2 separate regions of the Homo sapiens genome follow, and region 2 is linked to region 1. The links come from fine-mapping of genetic effects on gene expression. Tissue or cell type: whole blood. Region 1 holds a variant in brackets; the other region holds the start of a gene. All regions are shown on one strand. Distances are from middle to middle.

Region 1 (8,105 bases):
AAGGATCCTTCTAGTCACATCAGCAGTGTTCTGCCTTTATGTAGTAGTTGGGCATATAATCCTTCCACACAGCCCCTGCAGGGAAAGGCTAATCTTACGGATAATCCACGTGAGATTTCCACACAAGAGAAAAGCACACGCATAGTGAAATGTCAGTCTTTTCAGTAATGAGGATACCTTTAAGGCACTCTTGGACTCTCGGCAACCACAACATAATAGTTGAAAGATCAAGATTGGCTCCACGAAAGTGATACGGAGGTTAGGATGCTACTTGCTGCAAACAAGCCCTACTTTGGCCAACATCCTGCTTATTTCTCAAAAAAGAGGGACAGTGAAAACAAAAACGACATTGGGACATGCTGCTCAAGGTAGTTATATATACGATAAGTTGTATATATGATCACTGGTAGCCTACCAAAGCTGTAGAAATCTAGGACTGTGCTAATCAGTATCAAACCAAAGATTTCTATCTCTTCCCGAAAGAGAGGGTATGTGCACCAGTCTACAGTTCCAAAGGACTGCAACAAATGTAGATGGTTCTGTCCTCATCCCTGAGATCAGTTCTACTGAAATGGCAACAACAACTCCAAATACATCTCTCCCTTCTTGAAATCCCTAAAGCACTATCGCACTCCTAAATGCATTTCTCCACAAGTTAGCACTTGATTGTATACTGTCTTTTAATCCTTCATTGTTTCATGTATGAAGTTTTTAATCACCCCCTAACCCCCAAAAAAGATTCGGTTGTCAAGGGATATATTTCTATCCCTGCCAGCACAGTGCTGGACATAGTGAGTACTGAACACCTAAGAGGCACTCATTCAGACTGACTTCTACAGGACTTCTACGTGTGTGATAAAAGCCTGTGAATCGTGAGTCCCTGAAATATGGTAGCCTGGCCCAGCTTCTAAAGAGGACCTTCGTAGCCACAAGGCATGCTAAACCTCTAGGGTCTGATGCTGTTTTTGTTCCAAATATAAACGAAAGGCACTAGTCAGCCGCCTGCATAGACTTTCTAAACAGTGAGTAAATACCATGGAATGTCAGAAATGACTTTATCATCGTCATCTTGAAGAAAAATATGAACACTGATGAAGGTCATTTTTTTTTTTTGACATCTTTCTGTGGCAAAGCTCTTAGAATTCTTTGCAGTTAGCTGCTGAACAGTATGATGATTTGGGGATTTTCTGAATCATTTGTACTTAGATACTGGAGTTCAGAAGATGTGATTTTTGTTGCTTTTCAGAAAAAGGAACGTGGTAGGGAGTGTTTTTTCCCACGCTTTTCCAGTAACTTTGCAAAAGCATTAATTGTTCACTGGCAATTACTAAATGTATTTTGTTGCTCTGAGAAACTCAGCAGTGTACTGAGATGTGGCTGGCTGTGCCATCGTCATAGTGCACAGTGACTTTTCTGTTTCTTATCACTAAAGACTGAGGTGAGGTTATGAAACTTTCATTGGTCCCATCGTTGTGCGCAGGGTGCAACTGGCTACCTAGAAGCTGATGGCAGGAGACTGTTTCACACACAGGAGATTGTGAGCTGTGTAAGTAGTCATCGCCACTCAAGTAGGACAAGGGTCCTACCCAAGGCTAGGACCGCCCTGCGGAAACAGAAACATAGACTGAGAACAAACCTCAAGACTATCAGTGTGACCTCCCCATAACAAGAGAACCCCATATATAGTTTGAGACTTTCCCTTGAGAAACTTATACTAAAACTATTACTCATCAGTCATTCACTGATCAGCAGCTAAAGTCCATGAGACCAAATGGTTTTATATGGAACCAACGAAGTGGGAGCTAAAACTGCACAGTGGTCATTCTTTGGCCTCTCCTTGGCTTTATGACTTAAACCAACTACAACTTCCCTATAGCTTCTAAGCAGTTTCATCAGCATTACTTGGGAAAACGTGTTGCAAGTCAACCAGTCACTAGGATATTTCTACCCATGCAACGGAAGAAAAACCCATTACTCCAGAAGAGTATATCTAAGTAACTAAAATGGAGGCAGAAAATGTTTTAAGGATTTTCTTCAAAGAATAAGCCACAGCAATGGTTTTGTAGAAAACTCCTGTGCTTTTGAGCAAGGACTTTTGCCCTCTAGAAAGCAACTGAGGCCAGGTGCGGTGGCTCACGCCTGTAATCCCAGCACTTTGGGAGGCCGAGGTGAGCGGATCACCTGAGGTCAGGAGTTTTGAGACCAGCCTGGCCAACATGGTAAAATCCCGTCTCTACTAAAATTATAAAAATTAGCCGGGCATGATGGTGGGCACCTGTAATCCCAGCTACTTGGGAGGCTGAGGCAGGAGAATCACTTGAACCCAGGAGGCAGAGGTTGCAGTGAGCCAAGATTGCACACTGCACTCCAGCCTGGGTGACTAGCAAAACTCCATCTCAAAAAAAAAAAAAAGAAAGAAAGAAACTGAAAAGTGAGGTGTGGAACTCCAGGCAACGACCCAAGCACTTATTTTTTAAGAGGGAAAGGACTTTGGTCATGTTTACATTGGCCTTTGGTTTTTTTTTTTCTTTCAGCCACAACTATATGCTGATATAACTCAGCCATCACTTTTGAGTTTTGTTTTTAAATGAAGGTTAAATGTGACCTGTGCCCTCACATTTAATTCCGTTTCATGGAGACATCTTCCTGACTTTGTTGGATAGCTGCCACTAGGGTTGCTTCGATCTTCAGCCACATGCTGTCCTTGAAGCAGCTATTTGAAGATGTGTTTTCTGAGGAAAACAGGCTACAACTGTTTATTAAAACCACTTGCAGTGCATTCGTTTATCAGATGCTCAGTGCAAAGTGTAATTGGGTCATGGTCAAAAACGCTTGCAACATCTAATTGGCGTTCAAGATAGTCATTCAAAAGTTCTTGGCCCGCTGAAGTCTGTTAACAGTTGAAACATTCTACAGTTAACCATTAGCATGCTAGTTGTCCTAATGGAAATTTTTGAAGAGTTTTTCAATATATACCCTACCCTTGCCAGGAAGAGAAGTAAAATCCTCAGGTTGTGGGGTATTTGTTTCTACTCCAGCCTGGCAGGCAAGGCTAAAACCTGAGATTATCGATCTATGAGACATCTTGATATGTAAAGCACTTAATATTAAAGGCATAAAAGTGAAACTGCTAAATATGTATAGAGAGGTTGACGTGTGATACGTGGGACAGTTCACATAGACATCAGAGAATTTATTCCAGAAAGGAGCCTCCTGAATGTGATGAATACGGCAAAGCCTTTAATCACATCTCAGCCCTTAGCATCGGAAAGCTTATACTGTAAATAAACTTGATGAATATTATATGTGAGGAAAACTTTCATGTATAGCACTCATTGCTTCAGACAGAAAATGAATTCCGTCGGTATGTTCCAATCGTGATGAATTTGAGAAACATTGCAAGAGGGAGCTCAATCTTGGCCGGGCGCCGTGGCTCACGCCTGTAATCGCAGCACTTTGGGAGGCCGAGGCAGGCGGATCACGAGGTCAGTAGTTCGAGACCAGCCTGGCCAACATGGTGAAACCTTGTCTCTACTAAAAATACAAAAAAAAATTAGCTGGGCACAGTGGCGCACGCCTGTAGTCCCAGCTACTCGGGAGGCTGAGGCAGGAGAATGGCTTGAACCTGCGAGGCGGAGGTTGCAGTGAGCTAAGATCATGCCACTGGCACTCCAGCCTTGAGTGACAGAGCGAGGCTCTGTATCAAAAAAAAAAGTTGCGGGGGGGTGCTCAATCTTAACTGCAGAGGATCTACAGATGAAAAAAAATGTGGGGAAATGCTTTAAAAAAATAGCAAAATGTGCAACTTCTTACAAAAATTGTTAACGTTAGGTACTTCTATATATTTTATATGACCATAATGTCCGTGTGTGTTTTGTACCTTCAGTCCCTTGTTATTGTTCCGTATATTACCTGTAAGCAGATACTGTATTTTATTTTAGCCTATTTGACAGAACACATCACTCAGAAAAAGTGAAGTTTCAGAGCAAACAGTGAAGAAATCAGTGTGATTGTAGACAAAAAGTCGGTTCACAGAACGGAGCAGCGGGGAGAGGAAGGGAAAAGCTTCATAGTTTGGTGCTTATCACATCAAGAGATTGGTAAATTTCTGAGGAAAGACAGGCTAATGGGGCACTGAAATGGAACAACTCCTTTAAACGTGCAGCCTTTTGAATTTTTCCTCAAAACCAAGAAGTTGACCTCTGAGCTGTCAGGTGACCACTGTGTGCAAAGGGGATGGATTCTCTTGTCAGTAGACGGTCTTCTCCATGAAGCGAGAGTAGGAAGTGTACTGGAATGGCCAAGTGGGACTGCTTCAGCTGACCAGGTTCTTTTAAACCGTAGTCATGCTTTCCCACTAACTCTTAAATCCTTATGCTTAGAAAATTGAGGATAAGGCTGGGCACAGTGGCTCAGGCCTGTAATCCCAGCACTTTGGGAGACCAAGGCGGGTGGATCACAAGGTCAGGAGATCGAGACCATCCTGGCTAACATGGCGAAACCCCGTCTCTACTAAAAATACAAAAAAATAGCTGGGCGTGGTGGCGGGCGCCTGTAGTCCCAGCTACTCAGGAGGCTGAGGCAGGAGGATCACTTGAACATGGGAGGCGGAGGTTGCAGTGAGCCAAGATGGCGCCACTGCACTCCAGCCTGGGTGATGGCGTGAGACTCCATGTCAAAAAAAAAAAAAAGGTTGGGGGGAGGATAGGACTGGCCAGGCACGGTGGCTCACTCCTGTAATCTCAGCACTTTGGGAGGCAGAGGTGGGCGGATCACTTGAGGTCAGGAGTTTGAGACCAGCCTGGCCAACGTGGTGAAAGCCTGTCTCTACTAAAAATACAAAAATTAGCCGGGCGTGGTGGTGGGCGCCTGTAGTCCCAGCTACTCAGGAGGCTGAGGCAGGAGAATCACCTAAATCTGGGAGGCAGAGGTTGCAGTGAGCCGAGATTGCACCACTGCACTCCAGCCTGGGTAACAGAGACTCTGTCTCAAAAAAA[GAAAAA/G]AAAAAAAGAAAGAAAGAAAGAAAATTGGGGATAGGAGAACAGCAAGGTGGGCATTTCCCGGAATTGTGTGCAGATGCATCCAGTCGTGGCATTGCAAGAAGTCTGTCTGATGAAGCTCGGGAAGCATTTTGCAATATTCCCTTTGGCTGTGTTCCTGTGTTCCCTGCTCCCACTTTTCTTCCCCTGGTTTGTGATTATTAGGAGAGAGGTTTTGCAAAGACTCGTTGCTGTGAAAGAATCTTTTTTTAATTTTTATCCTAGAGTCAGTCACTTTTATTCCAGGTAGTCATGCTGATCTGCTTATCCAAAGCCAGCTAACCAGGTTCATCCTACCATCCTCATGGAAGACTGTGTGTATGAATTGGAGTAACAGAACTGAAATACACTTAAACAGTGACAGCAGTACTTCCCAGGGTGGGGGCCATATTTCTCTGTGTCCTACTCTGAGCAACTTCTCAGAGATACGAGGGGGCTAGGGTTTTCCCATCTGGGAAATGGGGTGAAAGTCTGCAGATTGTTAAATGAAATATAGAATCAGAGAAAAAGAAAAGTCAGTGATATAAATAGATCATTTCATAGAAATTAGGGTAGATTTTTATTTCAACTACTACTGGAGAATTTAATAAAAGGCATTATTTGAAAAGTTTTTCTAACATAGATTTAGGGTTTTTTTTTTTAGAGTGGACACACTACATTTAAAAGCAATTATTTTGCTATTCAGATTTTTTATTATCTGAAAATGAAATTATCTGTTTTACTTTTCAAAGCTTTGTGAAACAAACTTGAAGTTATAGGGAGGTAAGCCATCTCCAACTCTGCAGGTCAAACGAAAGTTTGGGAAATACTTTTGACATCCCACAATACAGAATGTCTTAACATGAGAATTGAATTTCATGATGTGTGGTTCCATTTAATAGCGGACACCACCCCAATCTCATGTTTTCCTGTTACCCTAAAACAGTGGAAGGAAACTGGGTGTTTGGTAGACTTCTAAATCATGGTCTCTGACAATTTGAATCTGAGATTCTCACCTCCATTTACTAAAGAATCGTGACTTAATTCAAATTGCACAGTAATCAGTAAAGTGAATACGTTTTTAAAATGGAATTTTCTCCCTTCAGCAAGCACTCATTAAGGAGTGAGGCTGAGTATTTTAAGATAGAGTGAGATCTGTGAGTGATTGAAAGGTGATATTTAAAAACTTGGATTTCATTCCAGTGTCAGGTTTGGGTTTTAAGTTCCTTTGGTCCAGGGAAGGGTCCAAGCAGCCACAGTTGCCCTAAATCTCCATCATTAAGTCTTCCAGCAAGGTTAAGTGCAGTATGGAAGGAGAAGGGGGAAGAGGACGGTAACGGCCCCACACTCCAGGCTGAGAAAGAGTAATTAGGAGGCCTGAGGAGGGGCCGAGGAAAGGCTGTTGGGGTGTGCTGGGGTTGGTACCCGAGCGCCTTCCCCTCACCTCAACCAGAGAAGAGCATCCGGTTGCTTTTTAAAGCTTTTAGCCTGCCCTAGCAAGGACAAAGCATGTTAGATTAGAGATGCTTCTGCTGATCGCAGGGGTTCTTATTTGAAAACATCTATGATGGGGGTGGGGTGGGAGGAGACAGGTTGTGGTTATGCAGGAAAATCTTGTCCTAAAAATATATGAGTTTGGGGGTAAGGGGTGGGATAGCCAAGCAAAATCAGTAATTATTTTAAAATGAACATATGTATTTTTATTAACTTTTAGTTAAATACAGATTTTACAACGAGGTCAGCATAAGCCTAAATCTATATAGAGGGCTAACTCAGGCATTGTCTTGTTTATTTGTAGACTGGATTAAAAACAACCTGTCCTGTTTTGTCAGTTCCCAGCTTCTTCGTTTAGAATAAATTAGACCAAAAGAAGAAACGTGCTTGTCTCTGTATACCCGCAGAATGAAGTTACTGTTGTTAAAACTGGATTTTTTCATTTTACTAGGTTCCGAAGAGTCCAGATGCTTGGTAGATGTTCAATACGTGATTTTTTTTTTAATTGAATGTGTTCATTTAAAATCCTCCTTAACATTTCTAGAAAGACTTCTTTCAATAAATAATGGAATCTTAGAGGAAAAGTGGTTTTTTAAAAGCTAGGGAACTCCTCCACTAAAAGTAACCATTGGAAACCTCGAATGAGGGCTAAAGTTTTAATCATAAGAGAAAAGGCAGCATAATGAAATGTGTACACATACATAGTCAGTGGTCCATTTTAGGAAGCCAGTGGCGTCTGATAAAGAAATGTTAAGAGTAGTGAGGTTGAGGAAGGAAATTGTGGGGATTTGAAATATTCTCTTTATGTTGTTTCTCTTCTGAGTCATGGTAAAACAATAAATTATCATCTCTAGGTGGCAGTGCTTGTGCTGGTTTGTTTTTTGTTCTTTGTTTTTCTCATCCTTGGTTGCATAAATACACATTGGGGGTGAAGAAAAAAAAGTATTCCAAAGTTAAAAGACTGGAGCTGCAACCCACAAACAAAATTCTCATGCAAAACTATCTGTTTACTTTGCAAACCAAAATTAAATTTCAAAGGCCACCCAGTCACCTGAATGGACCTCTCCTCTCAGCCAAGGGCATTCCAAAGTTAACCTGAAAAACTAGTTCAGGCCATGATGGGAAGGGGGAGCCAAACATGCCTCATTATACCCTCTCCCCATATGGAATTACTGATAACAACAGACTCTTTAAGACTGATAGACATGGCCAGCCATGGTGGCTTATGCCTGTAATCCCTGCAGTTTGGGAGGCCGAGGCAGGCAGATCACCTGAGGCCAGGAGTTCGAAACCAGCCTGGCCAACATGGTGAAACCCCCTCTCTACTAAAAATACAAAAATTAACCAGGCGTGGTGGCGGGCGCCTGTAGTCCCAGCTACTCGGGAGGCTGAGCCAGGAGAATCACTTGAACCCAGGAGGGGGAGGTTGCAGTGAGCCGAGATCGCACCACTGCACTCCAGCTTGGGCAACAGAGTGAGACTTTGTCTCAAAAAAAAAAAAAAAAAAAAGGTGAACTGGGAGGATGTGAGGTTGTGTCCAGGAGGCATCCAAACACATCTCTGACTGTTTTTACTCACACTTCTGACACAATG
Region 2 (8,105 bases), 23 kb before region 1:
CTTCCCTTTCCTTCCTTCCTTCCTTCCTTCCTCCTCTCTCTCTCTCTGGATACTTGTCCTTGGACCCCAGCCACCATCCTGTGAGGAAGCCCAGAGCACATGAAGAGACCACCTGCACATGTTCAGATCCACTGCCCCAGCTAAGATCTCCGCTGACAGCCAGACCAATCACCAATCTTAGGAGCTGGCGAGCCTTCAGATGGTCCAACCTTTGAGGCCCCCCAGAGGAGCCAGGTGGAGCATAGATGAGCCATCCATGTGGATCCCTCCACCAAATGGAAGATTTAGGAGCAAAATAAACAATGTTGTCATTGCTTTCACCCACGAAATTGTTGAATAATTTGTTTTGCTGCTTAAGTAGCTGGAACACTGTGTTACCGAGGGAAGAGCAACAACCAACAGGAGAGAATAGTCAGTTAAGTAAGAGATTTTTGACCCTCTCCCTATCCGTCCACTTTGCTCAACACAACAGAGAAGCCACAGCTTCCAATAGGAAAATAGAGAGGGAAGGTGTCTCCAACAGTCAGATCACTCACTCCTGCCACCCCAGGGAGAGGGAAGGGGAGGAGGAAAAGCATAGATGAAAGTACCCTTCCCACAGCAGGTTCCCCAGCCACAGCCCTAGCCGACAGTAAAGAAAACTCAGGCTGGGCACGGTGGCTCACGCCTATAATCCCAACACTTTGGGAGGCCGAGGTGGGCGGATCGCTGGAGGTCAGGAGTTCGACACCAGCCTGGCCAACATGGCAAAATCCCATCTCTACTACAAATACAAAAACTAGTCAGGCAGGTGGCACACGCCTTTAATCCCAGCTACGTGGGAGGCTGAGGCAGGAGAATCGCTTGAACCTGGGAGGCGGAGGTTGCAGTGATCCCAGCCTCGGTGACAAAAGCAAAAACTCCGTCAAGAAGAAAGAAGAAGACTCAGTAAAATGGGACCTTTGGAATCAGATATAAGACTTGGGTTTGTTTTTTTTGTTTTGTTTTGTTTTTTTTAAGACAGAGTTTCGCTCTTATTGCCCAGGCTGGAGTGCAATGGTTCAATCTCGGCTCACCGCAACCTCTGCCTCCTGGGTTCAAGCGATTCTCCTACCTCAGCCTACTGAGTAGCTGGGATTACAGGCATGCACCACCATGCCCAGCTAATTTTGTATTTTTAGTAGAGGCGGGGTTTCTCCGTGTTGGTCAGGCTGGTCCCGAGCTCCTGACCTCAGGTGATCTGCCCGCCTTGGCAGCAGCACCCCATCTGGAGTGGCCACTGCCATGATGCTGGCTGCAGTGAGTGAGGCATAGCTGGGATCGCAGCACTCCACAGAGCTGGAGGGAGCTGGGAACACATGGAAGCCCCCACTCCTTCCAAGTTGGAGGGACAGGAGACCCTCCCTCCCAGGAGTAGCTGCAGCCACCCAGTCACAGCCGCAAACCCGGGCTCCCCTTCAGCATTGACTCCACCAGCTTTCACAACACAGAAGTCAAACTTAGGCAACCACAGTTTCTAGGGTGCCCTTCAGGAACTTTTATTTGTTCAGGGCAGCCAGCCAATTTTTAAGCACAATGTCTCTTTGTAATCATAAATCATTAGTTTCATGATTCTTTCAACACTTTCATCTTAGAGTCCTTTCAAAACTCTTGGGTGGATACCACCTGATCTTGTCAGCTGAGCTTGTTTGCTGACAGGTCTAGAACCCTGGGGTTACAAACGTTATTGCCTATATTCCCTCTGACTATCTGTGGGACCAGTAATCTCATTTCTTGGAATCCATCCTTAGGAAGTAATCAAAGATGTCGAGGCCAGGCGCGGTGGCTCACACTTGTAATCCCAGCACTTTGAGAGGCTGAGGTGGGTGGATCACTTGAGGCCAGGAGTTCGAGACCAGCATGGCCAACATGGTAAAACCCCATCTCTACTAAAAATACACAAATTAGCCAGGCATGGTGAGTGCACACCTGTAATCCTAGCTACTTGGGAGGCTGAGGCATGAGAATCACTTGAGCCCAGGAGGCGGAGGTTGCAGTGAGCTGAGATCACGCCATTGCACTCCAACATGGCAACTGAGGGAAACTCTCTCAAAAAAAAAGAAAGAAAAGAGGCCAGGTGCAGTGACTCACACCTGTAATCCTAGCACTTTGGGAGGCCGAGGCTGGTGGATCACTTCCTGCCTCTGCCACCCCTGAGACAGCAAGAGCAACCCTTCCTCTTCCTCCTCAGCTTACTCAGTGTGAAGACGATGAGTATGAAGACCTTGATGATGATCTATTTCCACTTACTGAATAGTAAATATATTTTCTCTTCCTTAAAAAACAGTGTTCACATGATATGAATGTAGCAGATACTTCCAGGATACCAGCCTCCTCTTCAATACAACTGCAACTATGGTTTTGAACAGTGTTTAAAATAATATCAATAAATATTTATTTGTATATGAAAACAGGAAAAAGGTAAACTAAAGCCATGGGGATTGTGTTAGGGTGGAGAGATTACCGGTAATTATTTTTCTCCATTTTGCAAATTTCCTTTAATGATACTGTTGTTGCTTCTTTTTTGGATACAGAGTCTAGCTCTGTCCCCAGGCTGGAGAGCAGTGGCACGATCTCGGCTCACTGCAGCCTCCGCCTCTGGAGTTCAAGCGATTCTCCTGCCTCAGCCTCCCAAGTAGCTGGGACTATAGGCGTGTGCCACCACGCCCAGCTAATTTTTGTATTTTTAGTAGAGACGGGGTTTCACCATATGGGCCAGGATGATCTCAATCTCTTGACTTCGTGATCCACCCACCTTGGCCTCCCAAACTGCTGGGATTACAGGCATGAGCCACCGTGCCCGGCCCTTTTTTTCTTTTTTGAGATGGGATCTTGCTCTGTGGCCCAGACTGGGGTGCAATGGCACAATCATAGCTCACTGCAGCCTCAACCTCCTGGGCTCAATCTATCCTTCTACCTCAGCCTCCCAAGCAGCTGGGACCACTGGCACACACTACCCTGCACCCAGCTAATTTTAGTATTTTTTGTAGAGAGAGGGTCTCATTACGTTGCTTAGGCTGGTCTCCAACTCTTGGGCTCAAGAATCCTCCCGTCCCAGCCTCCCGAAGTGCTAAGATTACAGGCTTGAGTCATCGTGTCTGGCCCTGTCATTGCTTTTTAGTTTTCAAACATTTTTTAAAAAGTAAATCTGGCCGGGCACGGTGGCTCACGCCTGTAATTCCAGCACTTTGGGAGGCTGAGGCGGGTGGATCACAAGGTCAGTAGATCGAGACCATCCTGGCCAATATGGTGAAACCCTGTTCTCTACCAAAAATACAAAAATTAACCAGGCATGGTGGTGTGCGCCTGTAGTCCCAGGTACTCAGGAGGCTAAGGCAGGAGAATCGCTTGAACCTGGGAGGTGGAGGTTGCAGTGAGCCAAGATGGTGCCACTGCACTGCAGGCTGGGTGACAGAGCGAGACTCCATCTAAAAAAAAAAAGTAAATCTCTCCAAGCAGTAAGAGTCATGCAACCAAGCTACTGAGTTTCTCCCATGAACTTGTCTCGGAACATAGTGGAAAGTCACAACCATTAAAGCCTGTAGTCCCCCCCACCCTTGCACAACGTGGCCCCCTCTTATGCGTGCCTTACCCTGCAAGGCAAAGATGAAGGCTGTAACTGTGGTAGGTTGTGAAAGCACTTTGAAGGTAAAAGTGTCTGTTGTTACTCTGAAAACTCCTTTTAAACGGCTATAATAGCATATGCCACATGAGCAAAGCACAGAACCTTATAACTATGCTTGCTTGTGGAAAGACATCCCTTGTCCACGGGCCAAGTATTTGAAAATACCACTCCATATAGCTCCAGGGCCCTGAGAGAAGCTACCGTGGCAGCTTTGGGAAACCAGCCACCCTTGGCTTCACTTTGATCTTCCTCAGTCTACATCCTTGTTTCAGTTCCTTTGCCACAGACATACAATTACCAAGTACTATATTGCTTGATAATAACTATAATTACTACAAGGACTGCCTGAGATGAAAAAGACAGGTGAAATCGAACTTTCACATGGACTGGTGTCTGAGCTGGAGAGTCTGTTTGAGTTTGAGTAGGGGAAAGCCTGAAACCCCCCACCACCTGCTCCCGTTAGTCCCTGCATTAACTAGGGGCGGACTGGGACCTGATCCTCCAAGCTGGAGGCTTGAAAACTCAAGGGCAGGCGCCTGGTCCAGCGATTCGGAAACCGAGATGCAAAGTCCTCCCGCGCTCCTAGAGAGGACCCGGAAGCGCGGCGCGGTCCCGGAAGACGAGGTGGTGACACGCTTCCGGCCTTTGTGACTCATTGTGTCTGTGTCGAGGCGTCGGGAGGGCCTAAGTCCGTGTGCGGTGCCCTTCGGCCGGCCTGAGCCCCAGAGTCAGCTCCCCTTTCTCGCCCAGCGCCCCCAGGCCGCTCCCGGGGCTCACGGTGAGACTTGGGGCCGGCCTCTGGGGTGGGAGGGCGGGGCCGCAAGGGTGTGTGCGCGAGGGTGGGCTCCGCAGCTGCGGCCCTGGGACCCCCTCCAGGCGGCCCCGCTGTTGTGCGAAGAGAGTCCATGCCCCTGCCTCCTGGCCGGGCCCGGCCGTAGAAAGCGCCGTTCTTCCTGGGAGACGTCCCCGCCCCACCCCCAGGATCAGGCGGGGAGGGGGCGAGGGTTTCAGTGGCTGAGGGTGCCCGGAGACCCGGGGAGAAGCCGTCTGTGGGCCCCTCTCCCGCAGTGTCGTCATCGCCCTTTGACGTTTCTGCAAACGGGGTCGCGAGCGAACCGACCCCGGTCTTGATTTTTCTGCTCTCCCTTAGTCGCCATTTGCTTTGATTCCGGTGAGGTGTCTTTTTCCCCCCCCGGTTCCTTCGGGACCTCGAGGTGAAATGAGCGGAAGGATGAGAGATGGACACATTTTGAGGTGCCGCATACGTTTCCAGACCTGCCTTTCCTTCTCCCACCCTCATCACTGAGCGGTGATTAAAGAGTATTTGAAGCCTAGTCATAGTGGATAAATAGGTGATTGGGATCTAGTAGAGATTATATACACCCCACTCTTTCAGCTTGATGGAATGCTTTGAAGGCTTTGGAAAAGAGCTGTCCGGGACGTTAGGTGGATTTTTCAATTCTGGATAGTTGCTCTGTTTGACATGGAGTGGGGTGAGAAGTGAAGGGAATTTGTGGAAATTGCACTGTGTCACTAGGAGACTGATTAGCTGAGTGACCTTGGATAAGACGAGACACTCACCAAGTCTTAATTTCGTCATCAATAAAAACTAACTGGATTTTCTCAAAAGGCCCTTCCGACTTCGAAATGATTTGGTCAATGTAATTGAAGAATTAACTACAGTTTAGCTTGACACTCCTCCATCCCTCCCCTCCCTTTCCTGCAGTGCCCCCTGTACACAGTAAGATACTTTCATTATAGAGAGTGGCTGTTCCATGGCCTGGGACCAAAGAAAGCATTTATTGTACGGGCCAGTGCTAGGCGGATTGGAGGCGGTCAATAAATACTTGTTGAATTGAATTGTGGAGAATTCATTGTAACCACATCAGCAAAGCACTGTTAGTATATATGCTGAACAAATGTGGAGAAATCGCTGTTTTACATAGGAAACCATGGTGATTTGCCCCAGAATGTGTATCCAGGTTTGTATCTTCTCTGAATTAACATATAAGATTCTTGTTTATTATTTCAGGCAGTTTTCACCACTCTTAAAATACAAACGAGGAAGCTAGCTACTTAGTCTTTTGCTCATTCTCGATTTAAAAGCATTTAAAATACAGATGAATAGCATATTAAATCTAACATTTTCATTCTGTGGGAGTATCAATATTCTTTGAATAGCTAGCTGTCTTTTAAGGTAGCTTTTTCATATTAAAACATTTGATTGCTCTTTAAAAAAATGAGTGTAAAGGGCAAAGGGCAATTTATTTAAAAAAAAATTTTTTTTTTTTTGAGACAGAGTCTTGCTCTGTCGCCCAGGCTGGAGTGCAGTGGTGCGATCTCGGCTTACTGCAACCTCTGCCTCCCGAGTTCAAGCGATCCTCCTGCCTCCGCCTCCCGAATAGCTGGGACTACAGGCATGTGTCCCAAGGCTTGGCTGATTTTTGTATTTTTAGTAGAGACAGAGTTTCGCCATGTTGGCCAGGCTGGTCTCGAACGCCTGATCTCAGGCAGTCCGCCAACCTCAGCCTCCCAAAGTGCTGGGATTACGGGCGTGAGCCACTGTGTGCCCAGCCTTTGTTTACATTTTCAAGACTATGCCCTGGAAAAATACTGGGCTGTTTGGAACACAGCCTTTGAGCTTGTAACTTCAAGCCGTTGTTTAAGAAAATCATTTCTGTTTATCCTAGGTGAGAACTGAGGTATCCTTAGCTGCTGGAGGTAATTTTATTTAAAGTGGATGGTATGTCAGTATGTTTTTCAGCCCATATTCACCCAGAGGTAGTTTCCTACTATCTGGAACCCCCACCCTACCCCCATTTGACTGATAAAGATACAAAATGCCAGAGAAGTTAAATACCTCTCTCAGGGATGTGCCACTTACTTGTGGGAGACTAGAATTCAGTTATTGCCTGTGCAGCTTTCACTATTACAGGAGTTGTCCCATTGCTTAATCTTCTAAGCAGGCTGAAAATTGGAATGTACAGTTACATCTTTTAAGCTTATTGAAAAAAATTAAGACATTTCTGTAGTGCCTACTAAATGCCAGGCACTATTTTAAGTGCTTTATATCTATTACCTCATTTAATCCTCACGGCAACTCTATGGGACAAATGCTGATTTTTATTCCCATTATACAGATGAGGAAACTGACGCATAGAGAGGTTAACTTGTTGACTTGCCTAAGGCCGTCAACTAGTAAGGGGTGGAGCAGCTTTAATGCTAACCTGAAACTCATCCAACTAGTCCATGGAACAAATTTGAGTGCAACATTGAATGTAGAATGATCGGGCTTTTAAAAAATAGTAACGTTGTCAATTCAGTCAAGTGTATTTTTGAAACTGAGGCTTGCAAGGAATCATGCTAAGTGGTCTAAGGAGTACAAAGAGGACTGCTCTTAATAATCTAGTTGAGGAAGAAGGCAAGAAAAATTACAGAGAAAGAAACATCATGAGAAATTTTTTTTTTTTTTTTGAGACAGAGTCTCGCTCTGTCACCCAGGCTGGAGTGCAGTGGCGCAATCGCAGCCTCCCGGGTTCACGCCATTCTCCTGCCTCAGCCTCCCAAGTAGCTGGGACTACAGGCGCCCGCCACCACACCCAGCTAATTTTTTATATTTTTAGTAGAGACGGGGTTTCATCGTGTTACCAGGATGGTCTCGATCTCCTCACCTCGTGATCCGCCCACCTCAGCCTCCCAAAGTGCTAGGATTACAGGCATGAGCCACTGCGCCCGGCGCATCATGAGAAATTACCTAGCAAATGTTTGGTGAAGAGTATTAGGGCCTTTAGAGACAGAAGAGTATGTGCTCAGATCATCTGGGAAACCTCAAATAAAACCCAGCCTTTCCACTGCTGTGATGGCTTTTCCCTGCACCCCAGAGTAGGAGCAGAGAGATACTGAAGGTGAGGAGGAGGATCTGTCCCAGTTGTGGGCAGAGGGAATGTGCCCATGTCTGTGTCTATTTCCCCCTGGACTCATTTCCTCCTTAGAGTCGCATCTTCGCACTGACCCAAGAAGTGTCCTGCTCAATAGCTAAGGCAGGATAAAACTTTCACAAAAGTAGGGATTTCTGGTGGCTGGGCTCGCTATCACACTAGTTCTGCTCAGTTACCATGTTTGAAGATCCCACCTGGTTATGTTGTAGACAGTCCCCACTTGAATCTTCTGCTGTGTCTCCTCCCTTTCCCAGGAAGGGCTTCAGTCACATAGTGACCCTCCAGTGAAAACTGGGTGGTAGATAAGGCCCGTTCCTGAGTGATTTTTTTTTCTCTTTGAGAAGGAGTCTCTCTCTGTCACCCAGGCTGGAGTGCAGTGGCGCGTTCTCAGCTCACTGCACCCTCCACCTCCCAGGTTCAAGTGATTCTCCTGCCTCAGCCTCCCGAGTAGCTGAGATTACAGGTATGTGCCACACATCCAGCTAATTTTTGTATTTTTAGTAGAGACGGGGTTTCGTCATGTT

What was found. PIP is the estimated chance that this variant, and not a neighbour inherited with it, causes the effect.
Region 2: it holds the start of ZKSCAN1, and the variant in region 1 is fine-mapped to the expression of ZKSCAN1 in whole blood (INTERVAL, PIP 0.98).

Annotation. Positions count from the first base shown.
Region 1 is chr7:100,034,318-100,042,422 of GRCh38, forward strand. ZKSCAN1 (zinc finger with KRAB and SCAN domains 1) reads left to right here. Exons shown (of 6, transcript NM_003439.4): 6 at 1-7,372. Among named protein-coding and RNA genes, the nearest start is that of ZSCAN21, 11 kb to the right of the region's middle. RefSeq lists enhancers at 3,013-3,514, 3,515-4,014. The variant GAAAAA/G (reference allele first, on the strand shown) is at 4,998.
Region 2 is chr7:100,011,306-100,019,410 of GRCh38, forward strand. ZKSCAN1 (zinc finger with KRAB and SCAN domains 1) reads left to right here and starts at 4,291. Exons shown (of 6, transcript NM_003439.4): 1 at 4,291-4,421. LOC105375423 (a long non-coding RNA gene) reads left to right here. Exons shown (of 3, transcript NR_159960.1): 3 at 71-329. RefSeq lists a silencer at 4,377-4,546.